Linked DNA regions of Homo sapiens. The protein of the gene in region 2 interacts with the protein of the main gene of each other region in a pairwise test. Each region holds a gene or a part of one and is shown on either strand. Other genes may lie near its edges.

What was found. Proteins that work in one complex are often made in the same cells at the same time.
Region 1: the proteins of COMT (region 2) and GSN interact in binary tests that used the Homo sapiens proteins (3 or more experiments, as listed by UniProt).
Region 3: the proteins of COMT (region 2) and SLC7A8 interact in binary tests that used the Homo sapiens proteins (3 or more experiments, as listed by UniProt).
Region 4: the proteins of COMT (region 2) and TMEM205 interact in binary tests that used the Homo sapiens proteins (3 or more experiments, as listed by UniProt).

The regions. Positions count from the first base shown.
Region 1 is NC_000009.12:121,271,162-121,274,661, forward strand, and holds part of GSN (gelsolin), read left to right. Parts: intron 1-648; exon of another isoform or gene 649-702; intron 703-3,500. UniProt on the Homo sapiens protein: Calcium-regulated, actin-modulating protein that binds to the plus (or barbed) ends of actin monomers or filaments, preventing monomer exchange (end-blocking or capping).
Region 2 is NC_000022.11:19,940,422-19,944,603, reverse strand, and holds the start of COMT (catechol O-methyltransferase), read right to left. Parts: upstream 2,801-4,182; 5' UTR 2,707-2,800; intron 1-2,706. Other genes in the region: TXNRD2 (thioredoxin reductase 2, mitochondrial isoform 5 precursor), read left to right, coding at 2,801-2,903. UniProt on the Homo sapiens protein: Catalyzes the O-methylation, and thereby the inactivation, of catecholamine neurotransmitters and catechol hormones. Also shortens the biological half-lives of certain neuroactive drugs, like L-DOPA, alpha-methyl DOPA and isoproterenol.
Region 3 is NC_000014.9:23,177,161-23,180,660, reverse strand, and holds part of SLC7A8 (large neutral amino acids transporter small subunit 2), read left to right. Parts: intron 1-3,500. UniProt on the Homo sapiens protein: Associates with SLC3A2 to form a functional heterodimeric complex that translocates small and large neutral amino acids with broad specificity and a stoichiometry of 1:1.
Region 4 is NC_000019.10:11,343,469-11,347,600, forward strand, and holds the start of TMEM205 (transmembrane protein 205), read right to left. Parts: upstream 2,801-4,132; 5' UTR 2,152-2,800; coding exon 2,052-2,151; intron 1,948-2,051; coding exon 1,784-1,947; intron 1-1,783. Other genes in the region: CCDC159 (coiled-coil domain-containing protein 159), read left to right, coding at 3,149-3,159. UniProt on the Homo sapiens protein: In cancer cells, plays a role in resistance to the chemotherapeutic agent cisplatin.

The DNA.
Region 1 (3,500 bases), on a different chromosome or scaffold from region 2:
AGTTTGAGACCAGCCTGGTCAACATGGTGAAACCCTGTCTCTACTGAAAATACGTGCTGGGATGCTCCTGTAATCCTAGCTACTTGGGAGGCTGAGGTATGAGAATTGCTTAAACCCTGGAGACGGAGGTTACAGTAAGCTGAAATCACGCCACTGCACTCCAGCCTGGATGACAGAACAATACTGTCTCAAAACAAAAAAAGAAAAGACAAAAAAAGCTATCTTTTAATATACCAAGCACTGGAACATTAATTACTTTATTGATTCCTTGCAACCATTCCTCTGAGGTAGATACTAGTATCTTCTTTTACAGATGAGGAAACTGAGTCCGAGGCTGAATAACATGCCCCGGGTTGTGTGGCTATTGGGTGATGGTGCAAGGATTCCAGAGGTCTGACGACAGAGCCATAGCTATTAATGACAGCACTAAACATTCTCTTGAAAATTCTTTCTAGTCCTGGTATTAGGAGAACTGGTAAGGGAGTTTGTTATGCTTTTATGAGGGGTGGGTGTCGGTGTGCAGAGCTTGGAGAGCTCAGCCCTGCAGCAGAGAGGCCTGGAGGGGCCTCCCGGGGCTGTTTGTAAACTCATGCTTTCCTGTGCCATCCGCAGGACCCTCAGTGCAGGTCAATCTCCCCTCCATTTCAGGGAATCCAGGCTCCAAAAGGACACAGGACTTGCCCAGCAAGGTCATGTGGTGAGGTGAGAGCCCAGCCAGGACTGGTCCCCCCTTTTCATCAATCAAGCTTATGCTCTGGAAATCTATCTGGCGAAGCCAGGAAAACTGGACACTCTCCTGCTCCTTGGTTATTCCCTGAGAAAATGCCAGCAGAAGCAGAGAAAAGCACGTCCCAGGGGTTATGCATTTTGGGGAGGAAGGGAAAAAAAGAGACCAGTGTTTAGGCAGCCGGGGGATGTTAAGTAAAAATATCTCCTCGCTTTCAACGGAGTGAGCGTGTGTCATATTTCAGCCTGATGTGGTTTGTGAAGTTGGAGACCACAGGCAGGCTCAGTTCCTGCTGCTGGCCAGCTTCCCCTTCCCTCTGTCCCTCCCCTGCCATATGCCTGCTCTCGTCTGCCCTGCCTGGGACCACATCAGCAATTTAAGAATAGGGCAGAGAAAAGCAGTGGGTGTTGTGGGCAAGGGTAGGCAGCTGAAGGCCTGGGCTTGGGTCCTGGCTTTGCCAGTGACAAAGTACTGGGTGACTTGGGCTAATGCATGCCTTTCTCTGGGCCCCAGTGTCCATTCTGCACTGTAGGGTGGACAGCATAATGTCAGCCTTCCCAGCTCTGATGGCCTCTGAGTTGGAGGGCTTTGTGCTCCCCACATGTACTTGGGTCCGGCATGTCTGAGACACAAAGTGAGCCCGCAGTGGTGCAACTGGTGATTCAGCTACTGTTCTTGAATTTAATCTTTTCGGACTGAATTGATTGCCCCATTTTGCAGATAAGGGAGTTGAGGCCTAGGATTTGTTGATGTATCCCATTCCCTGCTCTACAAGCAACAATAATAAGGGCCACCATATGTAACACACTTACTATGTATGTTCACCTTTTGCTTTCACTATCTGCTTTAATCTTTTAACAGATCTACGAGGGGAGAGATAGTGACTCCATTTTACAGATGAGGAAACTGAGGCTCAGTTTAGAAAAATGAAAGGACTTACGTTCTCTTCTTTGAGTCTCACAATAGTCCTGGGGTTGTCATTATGTGACCCATTTTACCAGTGAGGAAACTCAGGCCTGGAGACGTGAGCTCCTTTGCCCAGGGGTCCCCAGGGCCCACACACAGCCTGTCAGGTTCCTTCCCAGGCCCTCCTGCTCCTCCCTCCTCCCTTGCTTGCTCTGCCTCATGGGGAGCCTCTTCACCTCTTGCATTCAGTGCCTGGGTTAAGGGATGAGAACAGTTTTCTTCCTGGGCTATAAAGTATCCCTGAAATTGACTCTTCCCAAGAGTGATCCAGAAAGGCTTTAAGCCATGGAGCCTCGCAGGGAACTCCAGTGAAGGGGTCGCACCAGTGGGAGTGGATTCGTTTATTCTGCTGAGCTGGCTAAGCAAACAGTCCTGTTATTTTCCAACCTCAATAAGAATATCATCAGAGCCAAGCTTATTTGCCAAGCAAAGTATATATATTCTACATATGTGAGCCTTCAGGGTGGGGCTTGGCCCTTAATTTCCCTGCTACAGAGACTGTGGCTGAGCTGGGTTTTGGTGGGTACTAAGTAAATACTAGTTAACTTGTTGGGTGTGTGTTGATGATGTGGGTGGCATATGTACTTTTTTCTCCCCACCTCCAAGGACCTTTTCCCCCCACCCTTATTATTTCTATTACACTTGTGATAGAAAATTTAGGAAATAAAAAAGTATATATATAAAAAAGAAGTGTTCATAACTAACCAGAGAAAATCACTGCCAACACCTGGGTGCCCTTCCTTCCTGATATTTTCAGTGCATTTTTTTTTACCCCCACACAATTATCCTATATTTATAATTGTCTGTTCTGACTTTCTGTTTTTTCTCAACATTATATCGTAAGTATTTTTCTCATGTTATTAAGGATTCTTTTTAAATTTAATTTTTAAAAGTTTTAAAAGCATACTATACCTAAGTAGATAAATGTTTATTCTAATTTAAATCTTTTATTCCAATAGTCCTAGGGATTAAAAAATGAAATAATGCTTTTTATTTATTAACAAAAAGGCTGAGAGAAACAGGATTTGCCCAAGATCACCCCCAAAGAACCAAGACTGGGGCTCCCCAGGGCTGTAGTTTGCATCCATAAATACAGAGAGAATAATGTTTATAATCTTGGGTATAAAAACTTCTGGTGAAAAGGTTGATCAAATGCTAGCTGTATTTCTCCCCCTTCCATGGCTTTCTACTGAGTCTCTCTCTCCTACAGGACCCTACTTTGCTCCATAATTAAGCAGCAAAGTATTTCAAGAGCTGTTCAGATTCTAGAAACTCATAGCAGATGAAATCGACAGATAAGTCAGATATCGAATATAGACATTAAAAGATCTGGGCACTAGGCTGTACCCTGTTATTGTCAGTGGCTCTTTAGTCCTTAAACAAGGGTCTTGCCTCCTACTTTTTTTTTGTTATGGTAGAAATAAATGCCCACCCGAGTTTTCATCACTCACTATTATTCTATCTTTGGTGTGCCTGTACCATGTTCCCTTAACAATCCTCAATTATGAAACATTTAGGCAGTTTATAAACAATACTGCAATGAACAACCTAGTGCATACTTTTTTTGTGTGTTCTTCTTTTATTATTTCCTAGAAGTGAGCCCTAGAAATGGAGTTCCTGAGTCAAAATGACACATTTTATAGCTTTTTCTTGTTAAAAAAAAAATTCAGTGACACTTGTGAAAACACGGTAAGGAAGTCTTTATTCAGGAACATTGCCTTGGGCATAGGGACCACTGCAACAGGGTCCTACAGTGAGGGAGAGAGTTTGGGCTCAACTCCTAATACAGCATGGGCGAGTGGGAATT
Region 2 (4,182 bases):
ATCCACCCGCCTCGGCCTCCCAAAGTGCTGGGATTACAGGCGTGAGCCACCGCTCCCGGCCTAATTCTTTTTTGAGATGGAGTTTCGCTCTTGTTGCCCAGGCTGGAGTGCAGTGGTGCGATCTCGGCTTACTGCAGCCCCCCACCTCCCAGTTCAAGCGATTATCCCGCCTCAGCCTCCTGAGTGCACCACCACGCCCGGCTAATGTTTTGTATTTTTAGTAGAGACAGGGTTTTGCCATGTTAGCCAGGCTGGTCTCGAACTTCTGGACTCGGGTGATTTGCCCACCTCGGCCTCCCGAAGTGCTTGGGATTACAGGCATGAGCCACCGGGCCCGGCCTATCCTTGAGGTTTTATGATCTGCCTGTCACTTGGACTGTCACTGCCTTCCTACACGTCAGCCCTTACCAAATCCTCCCATCTACTTTCCTTCAGTATCTGGCTACCTACCACTCTCTTCAGACTGACATTTCTAATTTGTCTCCTCCCTGACTTGGTGTCACCAAGAACTCAAATCCCTATTGGGACTCAGGTGGTCTTGTAGCTGCCCTTTGCCCCCAGGATCTGAAAAAAACAGCCCTGCAGACTGAAGCCGGAAAACTTGATATAAACTTGAAAGAACTCAGAACCACAACAGATTCTCCAGGGGCAGCCTTTGTGCCTGGAGCTGCTGCTACACAGGCCGCCCAGGAAGACCCCCCCTCCAGCTCCTGCATGCCACATGCTCTCTCCAGAAAGTAACCACAACTGGGATACCAATGCCTATGCCATCATCACAGACTTCACACCACACACCAGGAAGTCCCTGAGTGCCCCTGCTGGCCTTGTTAGGGCCCAACGGCCAGAAACCTCAACTGCTGCCCTGTAGGCTCAAAAACTGGGTTTATCAACAGCTCCATTCATCTTTGTTTTTATTTCTTTCTTTCTTTTTATTTTTTTATTTTATTATTATTTTTTTTTTTTAAAGATAGGGGCTCTCTGTTGCTCAGGCTGGAGTATAGAGGCAAGATCATGGCTCATGGCAGCCTCCGCCTCCCAGGCTCAAACGATCTTTTCACCTCAGCCTCCCAAGTAGCTGGAACTATAGGCCCATGCCACCACGCCGGGCTAATTTTTAAATTTTTTGTAGAGATGGGGTCTTTATGTTGCCCAGGCTTGTTTCAAACTCCTGGCCTCAAGTGATCCTCCTCGGCCTCCAAAAGTGCTGGGATTACAGACATGAGCCACTGTGCCTGGCCTGTTATTTTTGTTTCCTCATTAAATGCTTGACTGCTTGCATCATCCAGCAAAAATCCTTTGCTACCAAGTCTCAACAGATGGTCCCGCTGGTAGTTTATGAACACAACACAGAACAGAAAATGGACGGGGACTGTTGAGAGGAAAGAAGCAGGTCTCTGCTCTTCTTGCACAGGGGGAGTGCTGACAAAGACCCTCCCTCCCCACACTCCAGCCAGGCTCCTTAGAGTCCCCTTCTCCACTGGGCCTCACCCTGGCCTATCTAGGCTGGAACGAACACTAACATAGCTCCTAACAGCTCAAGGCCACATTCCCAGAACGATCCTAGCCCCCTCTAAAGTGCCTGCCTGAGAAGTTCAAGGCTGCCACAAGAATTTCCTGTGTGTTCCAGCCAACACCTGAGGATGGGGCCCCTGTCTCCCAGTCTCTGTGGGAGGTTGGGGGCCTGACTTCGGTAAGCCCCAGTGGCAAACCCAGATCAGTTGGTTTCACAGGGGCCAACCCTCCCTTCCCAGTTTTGGTGATTTTCTGTTTCCCTAACTCTACTGAGTCCCCACCCCTTCCCACTCCCTCACTCTCCCTTTAAACTCCAGGCACATCTAGACAAATCAGCATGGAGCCAGCTTTTTCTCATGTTGTCAGTAGTTACCAAGTAAAATCTGTTTTTTCTGCATTAACTAGTGTCTCACTGGGCTCTGCAGGGCAGCTCCTACGGTCCCTCAGGCTTGGAGGGTCACTTTAAACAATAAAAAGCAACAGGACACAAAAATCCCTGGCTGGAAAAATCCAAAAAGCAGGTCTGTTAGCAGGGCAGGCCCGGAGTGACTTCCCCTTTCTCTAACATTCCCACGTGGTCCTGCACACCACACATCCCCCCGACCCTGGGGAGTCCTGGGCCCCTTCCTGGTGGAGCAGCCTCTCTCTTGCAGGGAAAGGCCCTGGGGTACCCCAAGGCCTCCAACAGGGAGCCTGTTGGAGAAGTCACCAAGGCCCTCTGAGTCTGGGGCTCCACAGACCCTCCCCCAGGCCTCCTGCAACTCTCCAGCTCTGAGAGTCTGATCCCAGCCCAAGGACCAAGTGGGACCCTCCCCTGTGACTCTACCACACCCTCACCAGGTCAAGCCCTACTCCAGGGAGAGGCTTATCCTCCTGGTCTGGACCCCCAACCCAGTCTTGAAGCGGGATCTCTCACCGCTATCTGGAGCCCCTCATCACAGCACAGATCTTCAACCTCAGCTTTCCACAAGGAGTCTGGGGACCCCACCCCGGTCCAAAGATCCCCACCCAAGGTCCGAATTCCCCAGTTCCCATCCAGATTCCCCACCCCAAGTCCGGAGACTCCCACCCAACGTCAGATCACTTCACAGCGGTCCGAATTCCCCACACCCTATCCCAGTGTTCCACCCTAGGTCTGAAGGCCCCCGCCCCGAATCCGGCCGCATTCGGCCCCGGTCTAGCCAGCGCTCTCACCTCTCCCGCGACGGCCCGCCCGGGACTGGACCCGCCCCGGTCCGGCGCAGGCAGCGCGGCGGGCAGCCCTAGCTGCCCCAGAAGCCCCACGACGATGGCGGCAATGGCGGTGGCGCTGCGGGGATTAGGAGGGCGCTTCCGGTGGCGGACGCAGGCCGTGGCGGGCGGGGTGCGGGGCGCGGCGCGGGGCGCAGCAGGTAGGATGGGGTCGGGGCGTCCCCGCGGTAGGTGTCCGCGCGGCCGGGGTGTCCTCGTGAGGGTGTCCGCGCGGCGGTGGCCAGGGTGTCCCCGTGGGGGTGCCCACGCGGGGGTGTCCACATACCGGCCTCTTGGTCTAGTCTTGCTCAGGAGTCCGGGCTGCTTCTAGCCACAAGTAGCCCCCTTCCCAGGTGGGGAAACTGGGGCTGGGTGCCTTGTCTAAGGTCCTGCTGTGCTGACTGCACCTGTGGTCTCCCAGAGCTGGTATCCCAGTAACAACTACAGTTCTGAAGATGATGATATCCCACCTCCCGAGGTCACCAGGCACCGGCCCCACTGGCCAGACTTCCCAACTTCTCCCCAGACCCCTAGACTCTAGAGGTTAGAGGCTGCACAGAGCAATGGGAGGATACACACTCGTCCTCCTGGAGCCCCTGAAGAACAGTTAACTAAATCAGGACAATAATCATAACTGAGCACTCGAAGCAGAGGCTGGGTGTCTGGTCACTCAGGACAGTTCAAGCCTCATCCTGTAGGACAGACTCCCCTAGATCCGACCAGAGCGCCACCATATCTGTTATGTGTGGCCAGTTTCATTCCATGCACGACAACATGGTCCCCCACCATGCAGGGGGCCCCTCGACCCAGCCCCCTGGATGCTTGTGACAGCGAGCAGCTCTCCCCACAGGCAGTGAGTGTAGAGGGGTGTAAGGACGGGGTCAGGGCTCCTTCCCAGGGATGGCGGCTATGGGAGGCATGGTGGCTGGCCCTCTGCCCGCGGTGGACTCGGGAGGGAGGGCTGACTGTGTGTGTGAATGGGCAGAGTTGGTGCTATGGAGGTTTTGGGGGTCTCCAGGACGGAGGGTGGCCCAACAGAGTTCTGGGAGGCAGTCACCACCTCGTGGCCTTGCTGAGACCTGGAACCCTCAGCCAGGGCACTCCATCTTTCAAAGCTTCTTGGCTGCATGCGTCAGGTGGGCAAGCTCAGGAAGGTTAAATGCACCCGTGCTGGCGGAGTCCCATAAAAGGGGATTCGGCATCAAAAGGAGGAAAAAGGTTCAAAGGGCATTTATCATGGGGTTCAGAATCACGGATGTGAGGGGCGGTAGTGGGGACAACAGACAGAAAAGCTTCCCCTTCCCATACTCACAGTCCAGACACGGCAATAGCCAAATTCCAAATTTCTAGGTATTCTGGACTCAGAATGGGGAATATCATACGAGACTTAGGGGGATAATGCCCTTATCTTCCTATTTTAAGGGAAAGAACAAACTGAAC
Region 3 (3,500 bases), on a different chromosome or scaffold from region 2:
AACCTTATGGATGGTACTTCAATGGGAGAATAATCTCAAAGCTCCCCATGGTGGCATTACAGTAACTAGAATGGCAATTCTGGTGTTCTGTGATGAAAAGAGATTCCAAATATGTGATTTCAGAGAAATTGGGATATTTTTGCAAAACATGAGAATCCTTGTAGAGTTAATAGGCACTATTCTACCCCAACTTAAGCTAGAAACAAATTTCCCCTTTAAGATGATAACAGGGGACAAAATCCATTCTGCTTCCCCTCCCGAGTTGCTGTTGAGTCACAGATGTGCTGAGGAACTGCCCTTTCCTCTTCTGGAGAAGTTTCTCAGTGGATGATCGTGATTCAAGTGTTTTCAAGACCAAATGCAAAAATAGAAATGGCATTTTCTGTGTAGATTTCAGGGATCTGGTGTCCAATGTCAACACTGCAGAAAAAAAGAGAACTAAAAGGCAAAAAAAGGGCCGGGTGCGGTGGCTCACACCTGTAATCCCAGCACTTTGGGAGGCCAAGGCGGGCGGATCACGAGGTCAGGAGATCAAGACCATCCTGGCTAACACGGTGAAACCTCGTCTCTACTAAAAAATACAAAAAATTAGCCGGGCGTCGTGGCGCATGCCTGTAGTCCCAGCTACTCGTGAGGCTGAGGCAGGAGAATTGCTTGAACCCAGAAGGCAGAGGTTGCAGTGAGCCAAGGTTGCGCCACTGCACTCCAGTCTGGGTGACAGAGTGAGACTCCATCTCAAAAAAAAAAAAAAAAAGTCAAAAAGAGAAAGGAAGTTTTCTAAGTGAATCAGGAGACATGTTATGGAAAAGTAGAATTTGTCCCATCTTTCTTTCTTTCTTTCTTTTTTTTCTGAGACAGTGTCTCGCTGTGTTGCCTAGGCTGGAGTGCTGTGGCGTGCTCACTGCATCGCTGCAGCCTCAAACTCCTGGGCTCAAGCGATCCTTCCACCTCAGCTTCCTCAGTAGCTGTGACCACAGGCATACACCACGACACCTAGCTATTTTAAATTTTTTCTTGTAGAAACAGGGTCTCACTGTATCGCCCAGGCTGGTCTCCAACTCCTGGGCTCAAGAAATCCTCCCACCTCGGCCTATCAGTGCTGGGATTACAGGCATGAGCCACCGTGCCCGGCCCCCAGATCTTTTTTTTTTTTTCAGGGACTGTGGCAAAGTTACATTTGCCCTAAATCTATCTCTCTCATACCTTACTGACTAAGAGGGATAATTTAAACTACATGTTTTGTAAAATTTCATTCACAATCAACATGGATGATTGAAAGCAAGGATAACAGAATGGTAGGTGTTATGGAAATATACAATGAATTAATAGAAGACTTATGCCAGAGAGTTCCTTATATCCTGATTGGGAGGATGAGATGCATATGTACTAAACAGAGAACATTCAAAATTAATGACATGGTTTAGTTGTGAAAGAGCTAAAGTAGGGCAAAGTTATGTGAATGGTGGGAAGCCAGGAGAGAGAGGTTCTTACTAAGAACTAGATTAAGAAGCATCTTGAAGGCTTTGAGGAGAAGATGAAGTAGGGGAGCTGATTCTGGGAGTTTTCTTAGGTAAAAGCATAATGACTAAACTGTTATTTCCTAGATCAAAGATTGTGTCCGTAAAAAAAAATTGAACTATGAGAAAAATTGAGCCAGGTGTGGTGGTGGATACCTGTAGTCCCATCTCCTTGATCATTTTAGCCCAGGAGTTTCAAGCCAGCCTAGGCAACAGAGCAAGACCTCATCTTCATTTTTTTTTTTTTTTTTTTTTTTTGGAGACAAGATCTCACTCTGTTAACCAGGCTGGAGTACAGTGGTGCAATCATAGCTCACTGCAGCCTCGAAAGCAATTCTCCCACCTCAGCCTCCCAAGTAGCTTAATAATTTTTAAAATTATTTTTAATTTTTTTTAGAGACAGGGTCTCCCTATGTTGCCCAGGCTATCTTGAACTCCTGGGCTCAAGCAATCCTCCTGCCTCAGCCTCCCGAAGTGTTGGGGTTACACGTGTGGGCCACCGTGCCCAACAAAACCTTGCCTCTTAAAAAAAAAAAGCAAGTGTCTTATATGTTTCTGAATCTTTAGTGTTTAACAGAATGCCTGCTAAGGAATACTTACTCAAATGATTGTTGAATTTAACCGACTCTAGGACAAAAATATGAATAGGAAACATTTATCTGCAGGGCTGCTGGGAACCTGGCTTGAAAATCTTTAAGCTAGGAGTAGTTTTATCAACCTGGACAATTAGGTTGGCCCATTTTAATCTTTTAACATCATCCTTGTCCTAACCTAATCAGGCTTTTGTTCTCCATGTACTTGGCTAAGGAAACCTGTTGGCAGCATATTAATTTAGATTTCACCATGAACGTGGAGTTCCCCCCAAAGTCGAAAGAGGGTGCGGAGGACAGCAAAGTTCATTTATTAATGATACCAGAGCTACTGTTAATAGCTGTGTTTATTAAACACTTAGTATATGCCAGGTACTCATCCAATTACCTAACATACCTGAACTTATTTGTCATTCACAGTAACTCATTTGGTAGACACTTTATTACCTCTTCCTCCAGATAGGAAATAAAGGCTCAAAGGGGTAAGCAACTTTGCTGAAGGTCACACAACTAAAAAATATTGGAGCTAGGATTCAAACCCAGAGCTTGTCTGCATCCTGAATCAAGCTTGTAAGCATTATTCTTCACTATTTCTATTTTTATCTCCTAAAGGAGTATTTTCTTTTAGAATCTGGACAGAGGTCCTTATTCATTTTTATAGATGAATGAATACTTATTGTATAGCAATTAATTTTGTGTTCCCAGTGAGGAAGACTCCCAGTATAGCAGGGGAGCTGGGCTGTCAGCTGGGAGTGGAAGAAAGTAATATTCCCGGTGCAATTGCAGGAAGACTTGGGTGAGCCTGAGGGGCATCTGGCCAGCACAGACCATGCTCGCATTCATTCCTGCACATGCACACCTTTCCTTTATGGACCAGTGTTCTTCCCAGCCGTGTTAGAGGTACCCACAGAGTTCCTGGCCATTTAGGTACTTTATACCAGTCACGTATCTAGGTATGTAACCAGAATCTGTGTCTTGAAGGCATTAAAAGGAAAACCTTAAACAAATTAAATTTAACAGTGTTTAATTGAGCAAAGAACAATTTGTGAATCAGGCAGCCTCTTGAACCAGAACTGATTCAGAGTTTCTGGGGCAGCCTCATGGTCGAAGAAGATTTATGGGCAGAAAAAGGCAAGTGACATACAGGAAATAGAAGCAAGGTACAGAAACAGCTTGATTAGTTACAGCTCTACATTTTCCTTATTTGAACAAGGGTTGGACAGTTGGCTGCCTTTGATTGGCTGAAACTCAGTGAATGGTACAAAAGTAGGTTACAGTCTATTTACACATCCAGTTAGGTTACGTTTCACTACATATGGAGAAATCTTTAAGTGGAATTTAAAATATGTAAGGAGGCAGCTTTCAGCTAAACTTAACAAAGGTGAAAAAGCTG
Region 4 (4,132 bases), on a different chromosome or scaffold from region 2:
ACCCACAGAGGGTGAATAAAAAGTCTTTGAGTGGCTGGGCGCAGTGGCTCATGCCTATAGTCCCAGCACTTTGGGAGGCTGAGGTGAGTGGATCACTTGAGGCCAGGAGTTCAAGGACAGCCTGGGCAACATGGGCAAAACCCCGTCTCTACTAAAAATACAAAAATTAGCCAGGTGTGGGGGCTGTCCCCCTGTAATCCCAGCTACTCAGGAGGCTGAGGCATGAGGATTGCTTGAACCCGGGAAGGAGAGGTTGCAGTGAGCCAAGATTGCACCACTGCACTGCAGCCTGGGCGACAGAGCAAGACCCTGTCTCAAAAACAAACAAAACAAAACAAAAAGTCTTTGAAGGCAGGCATGGTGGCTCATGCCTGTAATCTGTAATCCCGGTGCTTTCAGAGATGGGGGTGGGAGCATCACTTGAAGCCAGGAGTTCAAGACCAGCCTGAACAACACAGCAAAGACCCTCATCTTTTTTTTTTTTTTTTTTTTTGAGACTGAGTTTCACTCTTGTTGCCCAGGCTGGAGTGCAATGGCGTGACCTTGGCCCACTGCAATCTCCGCCTCCTGGGTTCAAGCAATTCTCCTGCCTCAGCCTCCCAAATAGCTGGGATTACAGGCGCACACCACCACACCCAGCTAATTTTTGTATTTTTAGTAGAGACGGGGTTTCACCATGTTAGCCAGGATGGTCTCGCGCTCCTGACCTCGTGATCCACCCACCTCAGCCTCCCAAAGTGCTGGGATTACAGGCATGAGCCACTGCGCCCAGCCTATTTTTTTTAATTAGGAAAAATGTTTTTGCCATTCTCACATTGCTATAACACCATCTCTATCTGTTTTAAGTATTTGAATACCTTCTGAGCCTGTTTCATTAAAATAAATAAATAAAAGGAAAAAAAAACAGTCTGTGAAGTTCTAGTTACCCATAATCCCCTCCTGTCTGTGAGATTATTCTTGAAACACCTGTCAGGTCTCACTTACCCACGTCTATGAAACATAATGCAGGCAAGGGAAGGCCAGAGTAAATAGAGAAATCTGAGATGCAGAGATAGTTTCTTGCCTTGTGGCCAGAAAAATGTGTGGAAGGGGATAGGAAACCATAAATTCCCAGTCGGGCTGGTTTTTAAACAATAAGCTGGGGTCAATGTGCCAGCTCAGCTGAGTCACCACAGCTTGGCAGCAGGCCCAGCCAGCGGGAGGAGAGGGAACAGCAGCTAGCAGGGAGATGCTGGGGGATAGACAGGGCTGCTGGGGACTGTTGTACAGGCTGTGCACTGCTCAAGGGTATCCAGAGCCCAGCTTTGTATCTACCAGGAAGAAGGGGCTCCCCTCCCCTCCCTTCCTCTTCCCTCCCCTCTCCTTTCCTCTCCTCTCCTTTCCTTTCCTTTTTTTTTTTTTTTTTGAGATGGAGTCTTGCTTTGTCGCCCTGGCTGGAGTGCAATGGCATGATCTCGGCTCACTGCAACCTCTGCCTCCTCGGTTCAAGCAATTCTCCTGCCTCAGCCTCCTGAGTAGCTGGAATTACAGGTGCACACCACCACGCCTGGCTAATTTTTTTGTATTTTTAGTAGAGACGGGGTTTCACCATGTTGGTCAGGCTGGTCTTGAACTCCTGACCTCGTGATCCGCCCACCTCGGCCTCCCAAAGTGTTGGGATTACAGGCGTGAGCCACCATGCCTAGCCTTTTTTTTTCCCCCCCTGGAAAAGGTGTAGCCATAGGCGCTGACTGAGGTCCTGGGAACAAGTCTCCAGAGGGCAGTGGCACTCAAACCCACGTACCTGGCTGGCCTCCCAGAATGTGAGCTGAGCCCAAGCATGCTGTGAAGCCAAGATGCAGAGGTTGATGAAGGCACAGCCCATGGAGATGTGGAAGTAGAAGGGGAAGAGTTTGCTCTGCACTAGTCCGAAGGTATGTCGGGGAAGGCTTCGGAAAAGCAGGAAGCCTGCAGGGTATGGGGACCACAGGGGTGTTAGGGCACTTCCCGGTTCCCCTCTTATTTCCATCCCCACCCCAGGTACCCATGACATCCAAGCTGAGGGTCCCTACCTGAGACGAAGGTCACCCACATTTGCATGCCCCAGGCACCTGACAAGACCAGTAGATGGACCATCTTAATCAGGCCTCCTAGGTTCCCGCCTTCCTCCATCTTGCAGTCCTGGGAAGGAGGCACCGGGTGGCTCAGAACTTTACCTTTGCCTCATGCGTGGCCTTCAGACCCTGTGAGCCCGCTCGGGGACAGGGTTACGGCCAATCCAGCAGAGATTCTGGCAAAGCATCCCGGGAATGAGAGTGAGAAAGGCCCAAAGCAGTCAAGGCCCAAAGACAACCCTCGACCCCATCTCTCCAAATGTCAGCCCTCAAGATCTCAGGCTCTCTGGACCTCAATCTCCATGCCACTTCAGAGGCCCCAAATTTCAGCCACAGCAGCTCCAGATCATAGCCCTAGGTCTTCAGAGATCACTCCACTAATTCCCAAATATCACCCCAGGGATCCAGTTCTGACAGCCAAGACCACTCCTCTCATAAAATAATACCGGATATTAGGTGAAGATCCCGAAAGCCCCGAGGAAACCCTAAATCTCATCCTGAGGACACCGATCCCACCAAAGCCCCGAGGAAACGCCAAATCTCATCCCGAGGACACCGATCCCACCGTTAGGAACCGGGACCTCAATCCGCAGCACCCGGATTCCGAGAACAGAGGCGTCGGGGCCAAATGGGCTGAATCTGGTACCTCACTCCCACGCCCCCGGGTGGACAGCGACCCTCCTCGGCCGCGTCCCCTCGTGGGTTTCCCCCAACCAATAATTCGTCCCGCCTCCCAGCTGAGCCCGAAGCCAATCGGGTCGTAGATCTGCACCTTTCTATCCCGCCCTCCTGGGTATTGACTAATCGTAGAAACCCCCCTGGGATCCCGCCCCCTCCACGGGCTTTTATCCAATTACGCCGCGGCTACTAAGCGCAGCTGAAGCGTGAAGGCGCCAATGAGGCCTTCGGCTACTCCGGCAGGGGCGGAACTAAAATGCCGGCCACACCCCTCTCTGTGACTCAGTCTCTGAGCGTTTTAATACGATGGTGTCCCCGCGGGATCAAACTTCAGCGTCACAGCTGAGGACTGGCTTCGTGGTCCCTGATGGGAGAGCATGAACAGGTGGTATGTGGTAGGTGGGGTTCTGGAGCCTGGCGGGTGTAGATTTCACAACCCAGGGGGCGGAGCCAGGATGATGACCCCGCCCCCTCCCTAAATAATTCTCCCGGGAGGGACACGGAAGCAGCAACCGGGATGGGACGGGGAGAGAGGAGGCACTACTGGGGACCTAAGCTGGTTCTCAAATGCCTCTCCTTTTCCCCTCCAAGCCTCCCAGGCTTCCTATGGTCCCTAAGTCCCGGGTTCTCAGCGTGACATTCCAGAGCAAACACAGCTCCCCATTACTCTATACCAGGCACTGGCATGGATTAATTTATCTAATCACAACATCCCAGTAAGGTGACTATTATGACATCTCGTTTTTATAGTTGGGGACACTGAGGCATGGAGAGGTTCAGTAACGCGACCAGTATTACACAGCTGGAAGGGACAGAGCTAGGATTTGAACCCAGGCCATCTAGCTGGAGAGTTTCCCTGCTTAACCGTCATACTCTGCTGTCCCTGGAAGTGAGGACCTCCCTGAGGCAGTGACTCTCGGAGGGGCAGCTTAGGACATTTCAGGCAGAAGAAAAACGTGTACATCACAGGGTGGGTGTGAAGATCCAGTGAATGCTTAGGGGATGCCCGGCACTCAATTAGGTGCTCAGAAAATAGGAGCCTAAAAAAGGATTAAGGAAGATTTTACTGAAGATATGCTGAATAGTTTTTGTTTGTCTGTTTGTGTTTGAGACGGAGTTTCGCTCTCGTTGCCCGGGCTGGAGCACAGTGGCATGATATCGGCTCACTGCAACCTCCGCCTCTGAGGTTCAAGCGACTCTCCTGCCTCACCCTTCCAAGTAGCTGAGATTACAGGCATGCGCCACCACGCCTGGCTAATTTTGTATTTTTAGTAGAGATGGGGTTTCTCCATGTTGGCCAGGCTGGTCTCGAACTCCTGACCTCAGGTGATCCACCTGCCTTGGCCTCCCAAAGTGCTAGG